Homo sapiens: one gene and its partners. The protein of the gene in region 1 interacts with the protein of each later gene in a pairwise test. Each region holds a gene or a part of one and is shown on either strand. Other genes may lie near its edges.

Region 1 (7,029 bases):
GGCAGCACAGTGAGGTGTTTTAAAGAGCCCAGGATTCGGGTTCAGGTCATTTTTCAGTGTAACTCTTGTCTCCATCATTTCCTACTGAGACATGTGGTCAGTCAGGATGATTCACTTCCAAGGGATAGAAGCTAACTCAAAATAGCTTAAACAAATAAAAGAAACTAGCTCACAGAACTGAAAGAGGCAGGGCTGCGTGTTTGAAAATCCTTGGACCCACGTCTCAAATGCTATCAGAGTGCCTGTCTTGGTCCATCTTTTGTTATTGGCCTCATTCTCTCGTACTAAAGACTAGCTTCCTTCAAGTGGTCAGCGAAGTTGGTAGCTCCAGGGATACAGTGTCCTCTATGAAGAAAGAGAGGCTTTTGCTTTCAAAGTGCTCATAAATTCCCAGGGAAAGAGTCTAACTGGCCCTGTTGGGTTGTGCATCTTCTGTTTGAACCAACTGCTGTTGTTAGTTGGCTGGGACATTCTGTGACCAGTGATTGGCAGACCCATCAGAATCACCTAGAGGGAAAGCACGGCAGTTCTTGAAAGTTTGAAATGTTAGGCATCCAAAATAATGGATGGCCGCCATTTTCCGGTTTGTTGTTGTTAAGATGAGGTCTCACTATGTCACTCAGGCTGGAATGCAGCGGCATGATCACGACATTCATGCAGCCTAAAACCCCCAGGCTAAAGCGATCCATCTATCTCAGCCTCCCGGGTTGCTGGGACCACAGGTGTGTGCCACCATACCCAGCCAATATTTGTATTATTTGTAGAGATGGGTCTCCCTATATTGCCCAGGATGGTCTCGAACTCCTTGGCTCAAGCAATCTGCTTGCTTTGGCCTCCCAAAGTGCTGGGATTACAAGCACGAGCCACCACACCTGGCTGGTCACTTACATTTTAACCTTGGACATGTCACTTAACCTTTGTGAGCCTTGGTTTCCCTGTCTATTAAAAAAATAATAATACCTATAGTGTAAAGTTGTGAAATATTAAAAATCATATTTAACACTTGGCACATAAAGGCATTCAACCTAGGGTAGTCATTTTTGTTATTACTGGTACTCTTATTGTTTTGTGGTTGTTTCTGACACAGGGATCAGAATTTGAAGCCCATCCCAGATTCCCAGATGTCTAAAGCACTCCTGTCCCCAGGGTGGAGTCCCCTTTGGCTCTGCAGCCAGACGCCTTGCACAACCCAGGCCCTGTGTGCCAAGGTTAAGCTGGTTCACCATCTGACGGCCGCAGAGCAGTGAGTGCCTCCCCAGCCCCAGCAATGTCAATACTGCCTTCCTGACTCCGCCTATTGTATCTGGAGGAAAGTGGCCGAGCATTGTCTTCCAGTGCTCCCCCCAGGAAGCATGATATCACCCTTTAACAAAAGCGGGAAAGCTGACAGATCTGCTGAGATGGGTGTGACCAGCACATACACCTCACTGGTCAAGCCCTGGGCAAGGGGCTGTGACAAGCAGAGAGCAAATGACAGCCGCCCACGATGCCCTTCAAACCCCACGCCTGACTGGCTTCTTTGGCTAGTCCAAATTTTCTCCCTCTCTTTGTCACACTCATACCACATTAGACATGAAACCACCAAGCAATGGGTATGTACTTCCTCTAATATGCAGATGTGTTGAAAAGTGTCAGGACTCTGCATCTGGCACATCCACGTCTTCACACCTGCTCCTGCAGCCTTTGGGAAGGAGCAGGAGAGAAGAATGATCAGATTCCTGAAGGCACACAAGGGGACAATGGGGGTGGGGCTGGGGGAAGAGGTCACAGCTAGATCTAAAACTCATTCTGCAGGTGTAACACGAGTTAAGGAATCGTCTGGCCAGATGGGTAAGAATAGGGTTATCAGTTCAAAATTCCAAAAATAAGGGAGGCAACTTTAGACATTCCCTTTCCTGAAAGCCAGGAGTGAAGCCAGCTGCTCTCTTCCAGCTCTGGTTTGGTGATGCTGCCGGTGCAGCTGGCTCTCTGTAAAATAACACACCTGCAGGCTGGTGCTCCAGTGTCAGGCCCGGAGGCTGTTACTCTGCTGCCCCATCTTACTGTCTTCTTAAAATTCTCTTTCCGGCCGGGCGCAGTGGCTCACGCCTGTAATCCCAGCATTTTGGGAGGCCGAGGCAGGCGGATCACTAGGTCAGGAGATCGAGACCATCCTGGCTAACACAGTGAAACCACGTCTCTACTAAAAATTAAAAAAAAAAATTAGCTGGGCGTGGTGGCAGGCGCCTGTAGTCCCAGCTACTCGGGAGGCTGAGGCAGGAGAATGGTGTGAACCTGGGAAGCGGAGCTTGCAGTGAGCCGAGATCGCACCACTGCACTCCAGCCTGGGGGACTGAGCGAGACTCCGACTCAAAAAAAAAAAAAAAAAAAATTTCTTTCCATGGCTGCTACAGCAGCAATTCTCTAAAGTCCCAGGATAGGAATGTCATTGGTTTTGCTTCTCCTGTCAGCTCCTTACCTGTTTCTTCTTCATCAAATTTTTGGGTATCTGCTCTTTCTCGTTCCTTCATTTCAATCTTGAAATATAGCCATGCCCGTGGCTTCACTTACCATATACCAAAGATTTCTACATCTCAATCTCTTGCCCAATCCCCTTCCTCTGAGCTTCAGATGTGGGCAGCCAAATTTTGATAAATATCTTCCTTTATGGCCAGGTGCGGTGGCTCACGCCTGTAATCCCAGCACTTTGGGAGGCCAAGGCAGGTGGATCATGAGGTCAGGAGTTCAAGACATGGCCAACGTGGTGAAGCCCCGTCTCTACTAAAAGTACAAAAATTAGCCGGGTGTGGTGGCAGGTGCCTATAATCCCAGTTATTCAGGAGGCTGAGGTGGGAGAATCACTTGAACCGGGGAGGTGGAGCTTGCAGCGAGCCAAGATCGTGCCACTGCACTCCAGCCTGGGCGACACAGCAAGACTCAGTCTCAAAAAAAAAAACTTCCTTTACATGTAGCCTCAAAATCAACATGAACAAAATAATTATTTGCCTTATCCCAGCCCACCTCCATTCAGCACACTGAATGGCACCACCATTATCCAAATCAGAATGCTGGAGCAATGACTTATTCTCCTCCCTCCCTCTCAACCTTCCATATACAACCAATCACTAACTCCTGCAGTTTCACCTCCTAAATCTCTCTCAAGCCCCCTGTTATCCTCACAGTCCTCTTGCCTGGAATGTTAGGAAGCCAACTTGGTCCCAGCCTATGGTCTCTACCATGTTAATCCATCCTGAAAACTATTATTAGAGTGAATTTTTCAAGACATAAATCTGATATATGACATGATAGAACAAACACTCTGCTAAATTTCAACATGTACAGAATGAGGGACAACCTACTTAAAATGGCCTGTGAGGCCCTTCTTGATCTGACCCCAACTTTAATTCTCTACCTTCATCCTACATTACAGCTTCACTCAGCTTCCTTAAGCCTGCCCTGCTATTTTATACACACCCCCTTTGTATAGGTTGCTCCCTCTATGTCCTTTCTTCCCTTTTCCTTTTCATCTTGGTTTCAAAATCATTTGGCTATGAGCAAGTTATAACTATAACTGGACCTGACTTTTGGCAATATTCACAACTATTTAGGAGTTCTTGCAAAGACAGAAAAATCAACCTACAAGTTGTTTTCAAAATACTACTCATTTTCTTTAGTTGACATTCCACGTTTTTAGACATTTAATTAAATATTTATGTTCAATTTAGTTTCGTTTGTTTGTTTGTTGTTTTTTTTGAGACAATGTCTCGCTCTGTTGCCTAGGCTGGAGGGCAGTGGTATGATCATGGCTCACTGCAGCCTTGACCTCCCAGGCTCCAGCAATCCTCCCACTTCAGCCACCCGAGTAGCTGGGACTACATGCACGTGCCACCATGCCAGGCTAATTTTTGTATTTTTTGTAGAGATGGGGTTTTGCCACGTTGCCCAGGCTGATCTGAAACTCCTGGGCTCAAGCGATTTGTCTGCCTCAGTCTCCCAAAATGCTAGGATTACAGGTGTGAGCCACTGCACCAGACCTTTATGCTCAATTCAGATATTGCTATTTCATTTTGTATCATTGGACCCAATAAAAACTTTTACAGCCCTTGAAAAGCTCAGATTTTGTAAATACCTTTATTTGCTGTAATATCTCTATTAAATCATTTATCACAACATTTTACAATTCATCCGCCTATATTCATTTTTCCCACTAAAATGTGAGCTTAGCAAAGGGAAAAAATTATTTATCCTTATTTATATTCCTAGTTTCCAGGACAGTACATGGCTCAAAGGAAACCCTCAATAAGTCTTTGTTTATTGAAAGGATAGATGAGTGAATGAATGAATGAATGATTGGCACACAGTAACTCAATAAATATCTATTGAATAGAAAATACGACTATGTTATAGGTAATATTCAACAATCATACAATACCTCATCTTAAGTAAGGCCCTGGTTAGAACCACTTTTATGAGTATATCTTTTATGTTTCACACCTAACAGAAGAAACTTTCTTTCAACTTTATTTACATCAAACATTTAATATAAGCTAAACTTTTAAGATGAGAGTGAATATCATTTACAAGATATATAAAATTGATTATCAGATTGGTGCAAAAGTAACTGCAGTTTTTACCACTACTTTTCACCAACCTAATATTAAATTTTTTTTTATTTTTTTTTGAGACGGAGTCTCACTCTGTCATGCAGGCTCGAGTGCAGTGGCATAATCTCGGCTCACTGCAACCTCTGCCTCCCTGGTTTAAGAGATTTTCCTGCCTCAACCTTCCGAGTAGCTGGGATTACAGGCACATGCCACCATGCCCAGCTAACTTTTGTATTTTTAGTAGAGGCAAGGTTTCACCATGTTGGTCAGGCTGGTCTCGGACTCCTGATCTCGTGATCTGCCCACCTTGGCCTCCCAAAGTGCTGGGATTACAGGCATCAGCCAACGTGCCTGGCCCAATGTAATATTATTATTTCGATGTTACTGAGATCCTTTCTACAATGTTCTCTTTTCCTTTCAGCTCCGCTGTGAAGTACCAACATTTTCTTACTGTGACCATAAAACTCCATTCAACAGAAATTACTAAACATTAAATACATGTACTAATGAGAATAGAAAAGAAATAATATCTGTTGTGAGAGATTTAGAGGCTAATTGGGCTAAATCTGGCTGCCCAAAGCTCAAAGACACAATCTGCATGGTAAAGGAGCCTAAACTTAGGGGAAGAACATCAGGAGGAAGAGTTGGCCTGGGCAAATTGAGTTGAATTGTGTTTGCAGAGTAGAGATGAAAGATGCCATTTCTAAATGGATGGAACAGCATGAACAAGAGCCAAGAGGAAAGAATGTGTAGATTGTGGAGATGGGCCTGGTTGAAGCAGACAAGATACAAACAGGGATAAATGGATAAGTGAGGGGAGGGTAGATGGGTAGTTGGCAAAGTGTTTGGGTTTATTCAGTTGGAATTGGCCAGCACAAAGTTTGAGAGACAGGATTATACTGAGGTTTTGTAGAAAGAGACAGCATCTATGAATATTAAGTGGTTCTCCTACATCCTGGGGCAGATTAGATCAGTCTTGACTAGCACAGTGGTTCTCATAGCAACACTTCTCTTTTGATTATACTAGCTTCATTATTTATTTTATTTTATTTTATTTTATTGAGACGGAGTCTCACTCTGTCACCAGGCTGGAGTACAATGGCGTGATCTCAGCTCACTGCAACCTCTGCCTCCTGGGTTTAAGCGATCCTCCTGTCTAAGCCTCCCGAGTAGCTAGGACTACGGGCACACACCACCACACCTTGCTAATTTTTGTATTTTAGTAGAGATGGGGTTTCACCATGTTGGCTAGGATGGTCTTGATCTCTTGACCTCATGATCCACCTGCCTGGGCCTCCCAAAGTGCTGTATTACAGGTGTGAGCCACAGCACCAGGCCCCAAGCTTCATTTATTAAGAGAGTTCTCACTGGCTAAGCATTTCACAGGCATTATCACATTTGATTCTCATCACAACCCTGGAAAATGGGTATTTCATCCATAAAAGATGAGAAAAATGTGGCTTAGAGAAATTAAATAACTTGCTTATGGTTATCCAAGTTGGGCTTTGACTTTGTAATCCATGTTTCCTCCTTCAGTTTGCCTGCTATGTTCGCTGTTAAATTTCTCAGGTCTTCAGTGCTTCATGGATGTGCTCTTAGCAGTAGATTTCAGTGAAGTGATTACCATTTCTGATTTGGACTTCATATTTCTGCTAATACAACATATGACAGCTTATGCAGTACCTTTTTAGCAAGCAGAGCCTATGTTGTCTTCCATGACTTTTGTGTATCCCCAAAACCTAGGTGTCATTCACAAGAACTTTCAACAAACCAGGTCTCTCCCACATTAAATATACATAACTTATTTCTTGAACCCAAACACAGAACCAGACATTTACCTATTTTGAAATGGTATCTTTTTGTTTTGGTTTTCCACCCTTCCAGCCTAGAACAATCTATTTAAATCCTGATTCTGTGAGCTCACCAGTAAGCCATCTACAGAGAATAAGCAGGTGATACAATCACACAGATATCCTTTGGGGAGATAGAGGCTCAGGAGGCAAACTGATAATTTCAGAAGAATTTAGAGCCCACCCACCTAAATTCCCCAGAGAACATCACATAGTCTTTTGAGATGAACTTAGAAGACTCCTTCCCTCCTGGAGAGACGCCTTGGAAGAACTAGACTCTTCCAGGAAGCTCTCCCAGGGCAGGGCTGAAAGGGAAATGCTGAGACCTAACAAACAATAAAGACAATGCTTGGAAGGGAGCATCTGTGAAAAAAGCAAGCTCCTCCCTCTGAGAATAATTCCAAAGGGTGTCTCCGATCCCAGCTTTCAGACCTCCACCCTTGATTACTCAGACTTGACACTAGCCTTCTGAGACCAGCCCTAACAAGGGGGTTTCATCTGGGAGCACTTCCCTGACCTTACAACTGTTTCCTCTGCCACCCCAGACAAGATGTCTGCTATCTCTGAATCCAGTTGTTATTTAAAATGTCAAGTGA
Region 2 (7,029 bases), on another chromosome or scaffold:
TATTAATTTGAAAAAAAATGTCCTACTAAAAACCTGCCTGTGACCTTTATCATTGCTAAAGTTTGAAATGTACTTTGTTACAGGAAAGACTACGGCTAGGGCCTATATTATCTTTTTCTCTTTTGTTCTGTGTAAGTAAGTATAGGGGCAGAGTAGTTAGCTTGAACTTAGTTCTTTCTTTGTTCTGGACTATTTGCTATCCTCTCACCAGTGACAATTAACCAGTATAGAAATATAGATGTTTCTACATTGTTCATATACTTGAACATATATTTCTTTATGTAGATACTCACACATAAACTAGTTATATATTTGTGGGTTATATATACTAGTCAATCTATCTATCTGTCTATCTATCTATCTATCTATCTATCTATCAGTTCTCCATGTTTGTCTATTTGGCGTTCCCATGAACTTCAGACCTTCGCCTGTGTTCTCTTTTCTCCATTTGGTTACGTATCATTGCCTACTATGTGTTGATCACTCTGATTCTCCATCTCTAGACTCATCCCTCAGAAACACGGAACTTACTACCTTTCCTAAATCCAGACATTAACATGCTCCCCAAGTCCTGAAATTTTGCTTTGTAATAATCTCTAATAACTTCTTGCTTTGACACCTCCATTGCCATCATCTTAATTCATGGCTTTATTATTTCTCACCTGTAAAATTGTAATAGTTTTTTTAATCAGTCTGAAGTCTCATCCTTTTTTTAATGTAATCTACAGCTTAAAAAGTAAAATAAAAAGTGAAGGGTTACTGATTTCTTCTCATTGCCTTTGGTATAAATTCTAATCTTTTTTGCCAGAGAAACTGGTTCCACTAATGATCTGGGGGCTAGGCCTGGAGCTGGGAAGGGATCTTTTTTCTTTTCTTTCTTTCTTCCTTTCTTTCTTTCTTTCTTTCTTTCTTTCTTTCTTTCTTTCTTTCTTTCTTTCTTTCTTTCTTTTTTCTTTCTTTTTCTTCTATGATTGATTAAAAGAAAACAAACAGGAGGTAGTTTTAACACCCACCTCTATACTTTCTCAAGGTGTTTAAGGTTCTGGGCAAATCCTACTTCTTCTATTATGTTCTCTTATGTCACTTTTGCCACAAAATATTTCCATTGAATTGCACACTTTTTATCACCTTTTCTTGGCATTTTTCAAGTCATTTCAATCTGCTCTTTTTTGTGATGATGATTGATGATGATGATGACATGTGAATTAGTGGATTTCTTGACATTGTAACCTACATGAAATCAGGTATAGGAGACACAAAAGGCATAAACTCATAGTTCCCATACCTAATTTTTCACCAGACACTGAATAAATCATAGATTAAAAAAATAAAACTGCATATTGTAGTGACAAAGGAAAGGAAAATTTTCAAAGAGGGAAGTCAAAAAGAGGGAGAATATGAGATAAAAAAATTAACCAGAGGCGAAGTGGGAGGATGAAGACAGCAGGACTATTTTGTCCAGATTAAATTAAGTTGATTTTGGATCTAGATGTTTACAGTCTTGCCTTTTTGTTTTTGTTTGTTTGTTTGTTTGTTTTTTCTTTGCTCCCTTTCTTACTCTCCTTATCTCACCTCTCGTCTGGAAAGAGCCTCCTGACTTCCTAAAAGTTCATAGTTTGAGAATGTTTTTCCTAAATTTTCTTTGATCTGCTCTTTGGACATTCTAGGTAATGTAATTTGGAGGGTCAATTTTATTTTTCAGATACACATACCCATAGGAGAAAAAGCAAGGAATGGGAGGGAAATACAAATGTAGCGGAGTGATAACACAAACAGATCAGGTCCAGTCATGGCAATTGCTGGTTTGAACACTGATGCTAGTGCTCTGGGATTGCTTGCAAGGGCAGATGGAATATGGTGCACCCTAGGTGTTGCATTATTTGCACGACAAAAGTTTGTAGAGAGCTGGGAATAATTTCTTTACAGACAGTGTGGTGATGAATGTCAATCTGAGTAGGTAAGGGGCAGAGATTTGTACTGAGGTTGATTCATTCTCTTGGTAAATACACAATGTTCACAAAGGCAAGGTTTCATCTTCAGACCATGTGTGTATATGTCACCTTGGTGCAGAGAGAGAAATTTTTCATCAGTGCTGACCTTTGATTTTTTTTTCTAGACATCTTATAGATTTATGTAGTTATTTACATGGGAAACAATTAGAATGGAAATTTAACATATCTTCAGTTTAAAATTAATTTCTGTCTAGTCTAAATATCTTTGTAAGTACTAGATACTCAATCCCATAGCAGTGGCCTTTTACCAAAGGCTTAGTGCTATGACTTTTGCATACATAAAGACCTCACTTTTTAAGATATGATACACCAGAAAAAAAATATGGCAAGACTTTAGCAATATGATTTGATGCCTATTTCTATATAATACCCAAATATACAGGAATAAAAATTATGGCAATCACTGGATTTTGTGTACCTGGCTCTAACCAATATTTATATTAGAAAATATCTAATTATTGTCTAAAATATTTAATCTTCATTCCTGTTTGTATGTCAGTGTGCTACTTCAATATCAGTCTGTTAAAAGAGTCTAGGAATGACTACTATAAGCAGAGAATTATATGTTCAGGAATCACAACAAAAAACAAGAACAAATAGAGAAACAAAAGCTTTCCTACTCTTTCATCTAGGACAAGAATAAATACACATAAAGTCAATATTAGTGAAGTAAACAAGCATCTTCTATATCCATTCATAGTACCTTCAATTGATTGATTTCTTAACAGACAATCAGCAAAATTATCAGTTTTTATTAGAGATTTTAGTAGAGACCGAGCTTAAACAAATATATTCTATGGTGCTTAACTCTATAGTATTTAAAGATTCAATATTTATTTCCTCTAAAAATGAGTCAAGTGTCTGAAAGGAAAAAGCCACCTAACTGAAACTTCAGTTTCTACTATACAGGGTATTTATTATAAAACTGTAATTACAATGCAATTATATTGAAGTATAAATGATCATCATTCATTTATTTAAGAATATAATCAAAATTTGCATACCTGGAAGAAAACCATCCACCCTCCAAAATAGGGATTTGCTAATGTAGGAGTAGAAGGCAAAAGTTGAGGGTAACTCAGGTAACACACTCATACGTATTAGGATATGAACAGCTGGTATAGCAAACTTGATAGAAATCACTGATAGACAAGAAGACATTCTCTGCATTTTAAATTAAAGTACAATTTGTCTGTGGTCATTCAAGAGATAGTTTAGAGAAACCTATACAAATAACAATGATGCTAAGAGACAATATCAAAATCACAATAAATATCATGGCAATACAGTGTGGCCACTATATTTTAAACACATCCACTTGATGAAAAATATAATAATTTACTGATAAAACATATTAAGCATAATAGAAAATGAGGCAGAAACCACTCCAAGCTGGGAAACATCATGACATCTGTAGTGATAAATATTTTGAAAATCTAACTCTATGAATCTTGTGATTTTTAGCTAAATCAATTTTCACCCTTGAGACCCAATTTCCTCATCTATAAAGTGTTGTAAGCATTAAAAGTTATAATATTTGTGAAAATGCTTTGAAATTATGTGATACTCTGAGAAGTAAATTTTTTCATGTGAGCCCATGAAATCAGAGCACATAGCCTTTTAGCATAAACTTGATTCCAAATGATATCTCTTCCTTTCAGACACTGTGAGCAGATAAAGGGATAGTTTAAGGTTAAGTGATAGAGGCATAATCCCTTATAGGCCTTTGAATTCTTTTAACTTTGCATTCTTTATTTCAGAGATTTTTCAGGCTTCTCCAGATTCTACAGTCTAAATAGTTTGTAAATCCACACACTTCTACTTTGCCAGGGATTTCTTAGTGTAAAAATATCCTGAAGTCTCACCTGCCTTCAATCCTTACTGTGTCCATACCCACCATTACCAGGATAATCTTTGTAAAAGGCAGAACTTACCTTTGTCCATTCCTCTTTTAAAAGCTCCTATTGGTAGAAAATATACTGAACCCGTGATTTGATACCAAGTATGTTTTGGCTCAACTTTTATGAAAACAAATATTTAATTAGAATATACCAACATTTATGAGTTTTCCTTAAAGATAAATTTTGGAGGAAAAAAACTCCATTAGACCAATTTAATTCCCTGATGATTATATATATATTACCTAGTGAAATCCTTGGCAGTTTTTCCATTTTAATTTTAATTTTACTGAACTAATGTTTAGCAGCATCACTTTCATTTAATTTTTACAATAACTATTAGATTCATGAATCCATTTTACCCATGTCAAGTTCTACTGAATATAGCTTATGCTTGGAATTTTCCTTTGTGATTATTACTTTTCTAAAGGTAATTCTTCTTTTCAAACAATACAGATCTAAATTTTCCAAAACCATTTAAATTCTTCTCTTTGGCCAGAAACATTTTCTGTGTGTAGTTTTGGCTACCGCTAGTTTAGTTTTTTTAATTGGTTTTGTGTCTCAATGCTACAAAAAATATAATTTATGTAATTTTTCATTTTTGTCAAACTTAAATCGGGCAATATTAACCATTCTCAATTTTTTGTTGTGTTGAAATTTCTATCAGTGACATTAATGTGGAGATTGACAGCTCTTTGAGCTAGATTCATTTTGAAATTTTAAGACTTTCGATTATTTCTTATCTAGCCAATAGAAACTTTAGAAACACTTTTAAGACTGCTTGATAGCCTGGAATTATTATGTTTGAATTCTCATTCATTTGTATGGTATTCCTCTTATTAGCTTTCACACTTAGTACCAATTTCTTATTCATTATTGGAGCAAAAAGTAAAGAGAAGAATCAAGGTGATAAGTTTAAAATCTTCTCAATGTAAAATAGTGTGTGGGGAAAGTGTCAAATCATCCTACTTTGGTCTTTGTGCATTTAGGAAAAATAAAAGCAATTAGCATTGCACACACATATGTAATTGAATCTCTTCAGATTTGTCTGGCTTTATCTCTAACCACTTTGTGACTCTTTTTGTAACTTGCATTTTTCTAAAAATGTGACCTTGTTTGGTCTTCCTACTGTTGGCCATGCTGTTTTTCCTTCTCTCCACATCTTTTTATCAATGGTGCAAATTATAAATTGTATTCAAATTTACTGTAAAGATCATGTCCTCTAGACAGCCCCTATCCCACTTGTATAACCCTTGCTCTTCAGCCCCTTTCACACCTGCATAGGTATTCTTCTGCTGTGATGATCCTTTGAATAATTCTCTTGGAGTTCTCTTTACCAGGCTCTCTTGCAGCAACTGGTGAGCTCATGTAGGCTATCACTGGGTCTCTGCTTATTTGCCAGTGCCTGCAGGTCCTCAGTACCTGTTTGCTGAACAAACGAATGGTCTGTCAGCTTAACCCAACTCTGTATGTAGAAGGCACTTAATAATTCTTAAAAACAATTTTGATTCTGTCCTTTTATTGTTATTTATGGGAATTATTTATGGTAAAAATTTCTACATAATAGAAAATTTGGAAAATGTCAAGAAATAGAAGGAAAAAGAAATTGCTTAGAGCCCATGCTAACATTTTGTTTTTCTTCCTCTATCTTTTGATCACATGCTGTGTATGAAATTTCATGTTCAATTTTTTCCCAAGTAAACCTTGATTATTCTAGACAATTTGAAAAATATAGAAATGAATAGAAAAATAAGAATTTCAGGTTTCCAGTTCTCAGGATCTAAAAACTTTTTGAGTATTTCATTTGACTAGGACAACTAGATCTATTCAGTTATTTATTAACTTATTAGTTCATTTGATAAACAACTATTTTGTGAGTGTTTTCCATGTAATTTGGGCTGAGGACACCTATCCCATGAAGCCCGTATTTTCTATCAGTGGCTTCTTGGAGATGGTGTTTTAAATCTTCCAAAATCTTCATCAGCACCCCAAAACTTCCTCCTCAAAGTAACAACATACCTTGCTACAGATAATTATTGGTGTTATCAATGTTTTATAAATTATAAATTTAAAAATCACTATCTTAAGATCTATATATAACATATTAAGTAAAACTTATATTCTTACAAGACTTCCTCCAGGTCCCTGTTACAACCAGATTTTCTTTGCAGACTTTTAAATTATGGAAGTTCTGGTGCTGCCACTGAGTTGTGTAGATTATTATTAGATATTCAATAAATAAAGTTGGTAGATGTGAAGAGGTACTAGACAATAGTCCTATTTTGTTTTGGTTTGTTTGTTTTGTAATTTATTCTGAAAAAATGTTTATGTGGAGAGAAAAGGGAAAACATACAGAAATACACAGCACACAAACAAATTCTTACTTTTTTTTGGTAGTCTTTCTAATTTTCCAAGGTCACCAGCTAATAGCAAATGAGAGTTGTAGGGGGTGGGGTGAAGGCTGGGGTCTTAATCGGGGTCTATCTGATTCTAGATAGACCAGATTCTAGATTTTCCACTCGGTTACTCAATCTTCTTAGTGGTCAGTTTAATAACCTGGAATTTAAGACATGACTGTGTGATGATGGGCAAATCACAGCAGGACTGAATGGGAGCTGGTAATTTCTCAGAGGTTGTTTGTGTGACATATGCATGTAAGTTCATTCACCTGATTTAGCTACTTACATGAACCATTGTGCACTGAGCTGCTTCTATATCTTTAGCATATTCTGTATCTATGTAAAATTCACATAAGATTGTATGACTTTTATAAAAAACAAAAAGACATCTTTGATTAATTTGTCTTCACTATGAATACTGATGTGATGTGTTACAATCATCCTGAAAAGGAGGCTAACAAAGGACAGGACTGAGTCTGTCTTGAGGTGAGTGATATGATGGAAAGAATGGATTTTCCCCCACCCAACTCATTTTTGATATTACATAAAGTGAAAAACATTAAATAATTCACCAAAGTATCTAGATTTTTTTTTGTTTTTGAAGTGCAAGGGAAGTAACTTGACCTTTGTTAAACACTTTGATCATGGAAAACACATAAGGTTCTCATCTTATTCCAGGAAGTGTAGACACTAGATAATCTTTTCATAGTCATCCAAAAA
Region 3 (7,029 bases), on another chromosome or scaffold:
GTGATCTTTCCACTAAAATATGAAAAAGGCAAAAGGGCAAACTCATAACTCTGGAAATAGTCATGGCGTCTCTTTACCAAATGCCACACTGTCCGCAAATGTGTGAAGTGTCTCTGAAGGGCTCAGTGGAAATCTAGCCAGGGCAGTACCTCTGAGAGTACACCAACACTGTTGGTAACAGATGACATTTTGGTTATTAATGAAGTAAAGAACTGAAAACAGGAATTTAGTTGGAGACGGTCAGCTGGAGAGTCTATTATTATGTACACAATACTGTAGGTAACCAACTCAGTACTTACAGGACTAAAGGTTAAGACAACTATATTCTTCATGATAATGTCCTGGAAGATTTTTCTCATTTTAAAGCAGTCACTTTTGGCCTTTCTCCTGAACAGACAGATGACAAAAATTGATAAATGAGGAGCAGGTGAATAGAAGACAGAGCACTCTCCTTCAACAAACTGCAGTTTTATTCCTGTACTAGTGAGAATGTATGCAAGATGCTATATAGATTTTTTTTTTACCACAGTTACAAATATAAAAATGTATTAAGCAAATACATAATTTAAATTGAAAGACTAAGGAAGTTCTTTGTTCAAATACAGTTAGTTAGAAATATTGTGGGTAGATGCTATAATATGAAAAAATAGAATCATCTGCCATCTTAACTGGATTTTCAGAGAAATAATAAATGATATTAAAAACATAAAAGTGCTCTATTATAGAACATAAAAAGTTCAGTTGCTGTATTTACTTACATTATTTATGCTTCACACAAATGAAGGAATGGCTAGATTAACCTGCACGGACAACAGTATTATTGGACACTGACTACCTAACATCCAAAATATCAGGCCAGGAGCAATTTCAAGAAGTGTGTGTAGAATGTCTATGAGCTGTGCACTAATTTCCACAAGGTAGGAGTCGAGACGAGATTAAAGACTTGGTCCTTGTTCTTGAGGAATTTATAAGCCCAATAGTCCTGCATAGAAAACCAGAAATACTCTTCCAGTAGAGCACTGGTGCACCCTCTTGTCAGTGTGGCAGACTAGGACATTCCACAAAGGCTGGTACAGGCTTTCCTACTAACCTGCAGATGGAATGCTGTCCAACTCTGCCACAAACTCTTAAAGCCACAATTTCATGTGTTCCTTTCTTGATGGAGGTGCTTATCTACGCACACAGCTATTAGAACATCTCAGCATAACTGAACGTTTGTTCTTGGGGTGAGGATATTATTTATTAAAATAGCTATAACCAATTCTTTTTGTGACTGTTCTAGAAGGGACACATTGCATTTGTCTGACATTATTCACAGTTTTGAATAACTTATTTTGGTGTCTTATATAAGATCATGTGAATTGGCATAGAGGTTATAAAAATAATCTTTGGTAAACCTGTTAATCTCTTATTTCCATTACATAAGCCTCTATTTTCAGAGCATTCACCAACAATTTCTTTATTTAATAAGTGTATCTTATATAGACAATCTTTTAAAAAATAAAATGCCTTATTTGTGTTGCATACATTTATTCCGAGGGAGCCTCCCTACAAGTCAAGAGTATTCTCTTAGCCAGAAATACTTCTATTGCTAGAAACATTTTTAGAACAGAACAGATTTTTCCTGTTATCATGGCTGCATCAAATGTTACCCTGCATTTTAACTAAAATGGCCAAACATTTTCAAAGTCATCATGCACTACAAGAATCTAAGGCAGTGTGTCTAAAATGCCAAACCCAGTACATTTAGTTAAATATCTGGTCAATTCAAAAAGCAAAATAAATTGATTCAATTGTTTAATCAGTTAAACCATCTGGCCAACATAGAGTGAATCCTCAAAAGGGCAACATGTCCTAATAGAAACGTGTGACAGGATTGTCCAAGCACACCCAGGCCACACAGAAGAGATGCCATTTTATCTTCATGATGATGTCTGGTTAGATTCTGTTTTGCAAATATTTTCTCTTTGCATCATTTCACTTGCTTTTTGCAGTCATCGTTTACAGATTTTCCTTTGATAGGGAACATTCTTTGAATACCTGATGTAATTCTAAATTTCAGGTTAAAAATAGCAGGGCAGAAAATTAGCACGGCATTTTCTCCTTCAACTCTTCAGGAATGAGGTAGGCTTGAGGGCTTGCTCACTGCAACTTGGAGGAGGATCAGTTATTCCTTATTGCCACTCTGTCTTGGCTAATCAGTTATATTTTCATTTCCTCAGTGAAATGGAACCCAGAAAGCCCTTGAACTGCTATCATATACAAGCAGTTTATTACCTATTGATTTTCACCAGGTCAGGTTTGGTCTGGCTCATGTTTGTAAACTAAAACTCTAGAGCGTCTCAGAGTTTGGGCTCAGATACTACCACTGCTGTTGTGCAGATCTGGTAGCTTTATGATTTCAGGATTCCAACCTCAAAGAATTCTTAGAAAGCTAAGTGAATGAGAATTTAGTATATGGCCAATAATATTATTGCAAAAGGTAAGGAAAATGTTTAACATAAGAAACTGGATCCTTAAACAGCAAGGCAAGAGAATCAGCATGTGAAGGGTAGCATGTGAGGTCTATTTTTATATTGCTGGACATCTGGTAAATGGTTTAATATTATTTTCACATGTCATTTTGGGCTTTCTTCCGAGAGGTGATTACAAAATTTATCAAAGACCCTCCCAAAGAAAACTGCCCCGAAAATGTCTGTGTGCTGTGTGCCTTTTAGTATTTAAAAGTGAATTGGCCAGGTGCGGTGGCTCACTCTTGTAATCCTAGCACTTTGGGAGGTTGAGGTGGGTGGATCACCTAAGGTCACGAGTTCAAGACCAGCCTGGCCAACATGGTGAAACCCCATCTCTACTAAAAACACAAAAATTAGCCAGACATGGTGGCAGGCACCTGTAATTCCAGCTACTTGGGAGGCTAAGGCAGAATCGCTTGAACCTGGGAGGCGGAGGTTGTAGTGAGCTGAGATTGTGCCACTGCACTCCAGCCTGGGCAACAGAGCAAGACTTCATTTCAAAAAAAAGTGAAATTATGGTCATCTCTTTGATGATGTGGAACCTGAAAGGACTATGAAATTATACTCATGGGTATAAAAGATAATATGAACAGTAGATAAAAATCACATTCAACTGGGAAAACAAACATATTCAAGTAGGAGGAGTGGGGCAAGTAATAAAACAGAGGGACTCAGAGGTTTAAGGGATAGAGAATTACTTAGGACAAATATGTGCAAGCCCAGGTAAGAGAGGTGAGTCTTTGAAAATTCTGATTCAAGAGCTGAACAATTGGCTGCTTTCCAGAGAACAACAGAATGACAATACAAAATTGATTTAATGAGATGAGGTTAAAGGAGTTAATTATAACGAACTTGGAAAAATAATTATTAAGATGCTAGATGGGACTCTCCCAAGATTTGATAGCTCAAAAGCACTTTGAAGTCTTGATGATTAAAGTGTACTGCACAGGTACACAGACAGGATGCCCACCAAGACAGGAAATGGAGTGTTTACCAAGACATAACACATGATGCAATTAAATGGAAATAAATCCAATAGAGCTGAATGTCAAGGAAAACTTTTTTTTTCTCCTAAATTTAATAAATAAGTCAATTATATATTTAGTCTTCCCAGGAGTAGGAGCGAATAGTGAAATATTTGTTGCTAAGAAGGTTTAAAATTAGGTGTAGGGTAGGAATAAACATTTCCTGGGTTGGATTAGACTAAAAAAACCTACGATTTTTCCCTGTCATGTCCATTTACATAATTCTGATACTACCCTAGATGTTGCCAGAGTACGTGAGTGTTATTTACTATTACAGATGCATAGGTTTTTTTTATGGTTTTAACTCCTGGTTTGTGCAATTAATTGCTCTCTCTCCTAGATCCAGAGGTTTGCTATTAAAGTAGCATTAGCACTTTCCAGTGTGTGGCCTGTGGAAGGTGACCACTGTCCTAGACTGGCTCAGTTATCCCATTCCCTTGATGAGGCTGTCTTTTAAGCTCAATTGAAGGTAGTAACAACAATCCTAACTTTATGAGGATTCTCTTTATGTGAGTAGAAATGTGTAGATTCTGGAACAGTGCCTAGCAGGTTGCAGATACTTACTAGAAGTTTTCTGAGTGAATGAAAAGTCGAAAATGAATGTATCCTTCCAAGCATTAATGTGCTTTGCATCAAGCAACATTAGTGTAAAATTCTGCTTTTTCTCTTTTTTCTTTTCAATGTAGGAAAGGTGATTTCTAATGGATGCCACACGTTGTAGATCTCTGACCTCTATTTTCTCGCTGGTGGTACATCTACTGCACTTACACATATGTTGTTCCTTTTCATTTCCAGAAGATTCACTTAGTTCCTTGATACAGAATCAGAGCTTAAGACTGTCATTTCACAAGAGCATTGAGCACAATGAAACTGTGAATCTTTGAAGCTTATGATTATGCTTCACATTTTTGTAAACTTCAAATAACCTTGGAAAAATTTCCAGATTGGGTGTAGAGTTATTTAATTATAAAGAACTATTTTAGGTATAGTCAATGATTTTCAATTATTATGTCAATTACATTCGTTGTATTCACTTACGGACTTTATGGTAGGTTACAAAAATATATACTTTGAAAAGAAATATACTCTTTATGCAAAGGAAGCTATGCCATCAACAAACTTGACCTCTAATTCCCAAGTTTATTACAGAAAAATTTGTAGTGTGAAAAAGGCAAACATCTCCAGCTCATCTTCTCAGGTATCTATGAAGATTCCGTACAAACTCCTTTCAAATTTTTCCCAGGAATGCTGTCGGAACTGGACCTTGATGAAGGAAATACTTTCTGACTCATTGGAATTTGTTATAGTCAAAGTAAGTAAGGCACAAATATTGAAGATAAACTTGGTACAGTATGTAGTGCCTTTTGTTATTAAATGCAACTTTGGGTGATTACTTGACATTTTGACTTCATTGATTTACTAAAAGAAGTTTTGAAAATTTTACTGAAGACCACTGTTTTTGTTTTTGCTATTGTTTTTAAATTTACTATATATGATGTTTGTAGTCATTTCTATGAAAATGTTGGCATTAAGCCTTTTAATGAGGGGCACAATCTGCTACCATAATATTCTTTTAATGGGAAATCAAGTAGGAATGGATAATTGTGACTTTTCTAGGAATGGAGACCACTGAAAATGAGACAGAAACTAGTGTGTATAAATACATTACAGTATGGGTGTGGATGTTCACACTCCACACCATGAATGCAATGAAAGGATCTCTAATCACTGTAGATAGTGCTTTGCATGTTATGTTTCCAGTCTGGGTATAGCTGGCATCTTATTAACAAAAGGAATTCATCACTTCTGTTTGGAATCATTCTCTATCAGAACCCTCAACCCTGCATCCTACCATCCTGGGCTTGCACTGCAAGTTACATGATCCCTGAGCTGACCACTTTGGCTTGAATCCCTGGAAGGAGAAAGGAGAGAGAGAGCAACTAGTTCAGACACAAGCATCTAGTTCAGCTTTGGTACTGCTTAATTCTTTTTTCTCCCTCCCTCTAATCCTTTTTTTGACTGTCACATTTGTCCTAATAGCAAGTTAGGACATGTCTGTTGGCTCTCGAGATTCATGGGACAGCAATGCAGCAAATCTAGCCATAGTATTTGCTCTCTCTAGCCCTGCCCTTTTTCCTGTCCAGTGAATATCAAAACAGGTAGAAAACATGGCCTGAAGGATTGTCTCTGCCACCACCTCCATATGCATTTTACCAGTAGTCCTGTCATACAGGTTGAATTAGTTTTATGTAGAACAAGTCATGAACACTTTAGTGTGGAAAAATAGTATTATATAAAGCTTAATATTAAACATTATGAAAAATACATATTTACAGAAGAAACTACAAAATACAACTATGTACAATAATATCTGTTACCTTTAAATTATATAAAATTTTAAACATTCTCCAGATTAATAAATTATACATAGTATCAACAGAAATAGCTGGCACCTCTGTAGGGCATGAAGCAAGTTTTTAAAAACAAATCACACAGTGAATAATTTTTATCCAGGAGCTCTTCAGGTACATTCTCAATGCCTTGAATAGACTGGATCTGAAAGGAAGAACACTGTAATTAGAGACTGCCGCAGGGTGTGTCATAATTGTTTACGCTGTTTATGAAAATTACCAATGTGAAAGACCAGCAGAAACATATAGCTCAACCTAGTTTAAGATGAGACCATTCCTATTGGGACCAGGTAATTCCATTTAGAAAGACAGATTATTAGACTTGGAAGGGACTAGTGATTCTAGCCCATCGCCTCTGTTTTTATGGATGAAGCCATAGGCCCAGAGAGGCAGAGTAACTTACTCAGGGTTACACAGCTTGTTACAGCTAGTTAGTTCGAGAGTTCGGACCTGAATCTTAGCCTTCAGCTACGTGGTGGTTATCCTTTTCTATACCATAGTTAGCTTCTTTCAGGAGTGCTCAAGATTACTCTAAAAAAAGATTCTTAAGTCAAAACAAGACAAAGGAACCTCCAAGATCCCTCAGAACTTGCTCATACTGAAGCCTCTTAAGGAATCTCCCATGCAAAAACCTTAATTTACTATACAGATCAATTAGGGTGTAATTTGTAATTATTCATAATACAAAATAATTATCTGATTTACAAAGGACTCCTCTAAATAGTAGCTCTTTATTTGTGCTTTACAGATGCTAACTCATTAACATACTGGCTAGGCTGGGTGGTAGAGAGAACTAAGTAAAAGGTTAGGAGACACTACCTGTTGAAGATCATTTAGAATGGAGATAAGAGGGTATGAAATAATGTTTGTCAAAGAAAGATTATCTGATTTATAGAGAGATACCAGTCCACATGGCAAGGAATTGTGGCTGCATCTGCCCACAGCCATGTGAACAAGCCATTATGAAGCGAGTCCTCCAGCCCCAGTCAAACCTTCAGATAATGGCAGCCCCAGTCTAAGTCTTGACTGCAACCTCCTGAAAGACTCTGGGCCAGAGCCACCAGTGAGACAATAAATGCT

Evidence for each region. Proteins that work in one complex are often made in the same cells at the same time.
Region 2: the proteins of TEK (region 1) and PTPRC interact in binary tests that used the Homo sapiens proteins (3 or more experiments, as listed by UniProt).
Region 3: the proteins of TEK (region 1) and PTPRB interact in binary tests that used the Homo sapiens proteins (3 or more experiments, as listed by UniProt).

What each region holds. Positions count from the first base shown.
Region 1 is NC_000009.12:27,112,202-27,119,230, reverse strand, and holds part of TEK (angiopoietin-1 receptor isoform 1 precursor), read right to left. Parts: intron 1-7,029. UniProt on the Homo sapiens protein: Tyrosine-protein kinase that acts as a cell-surface receptor for ANGPT1, ANGPT2 and ANGPT4 and regulates angiogenesis, endothelial cell survival, proliferation, migration, adhesion and cell spreading, reorganization of the actin cytoskeleton, but also maintenance of vascular quiescence.
Region 2 is NC_000001.11:198,642,023-198,649,051, forward strand, and holds part of PTPRC (receptor-type tyrosine-protein phosphatase C isoform 1 precursor), read left to right. Parts: intron 1-7,029. UniProt on the Homo sapiens protein: Protein tyrosine-protein phosphatase required for T-cell activation through the antigen receptor. Acts as a positive regulator of T-cell coactivation upon binding to DPP4.
Region 3 is NC_000012.12:70,515,418-70,522,446, forward strand, and holds the end of PTPRB (receptor-type tyrosine-protein phosphatase beta), read right to left. Parts: exon of another isoform or gene 6,095-7,029; coding exon 6,072-6,094; 3' UTR 453-6,071; downstream 1-452. UniProt on the Homo sapiens protein: Plays an important role in blood vessel remodeling and angiogenesis. Not necessary for the initial formation of blood vessels, but is essential for their maintenance and remodeling. Can induce dephosphorylation of TEK/TIE2, CDH5/VE-cadherin and KDR/VEGFR-2.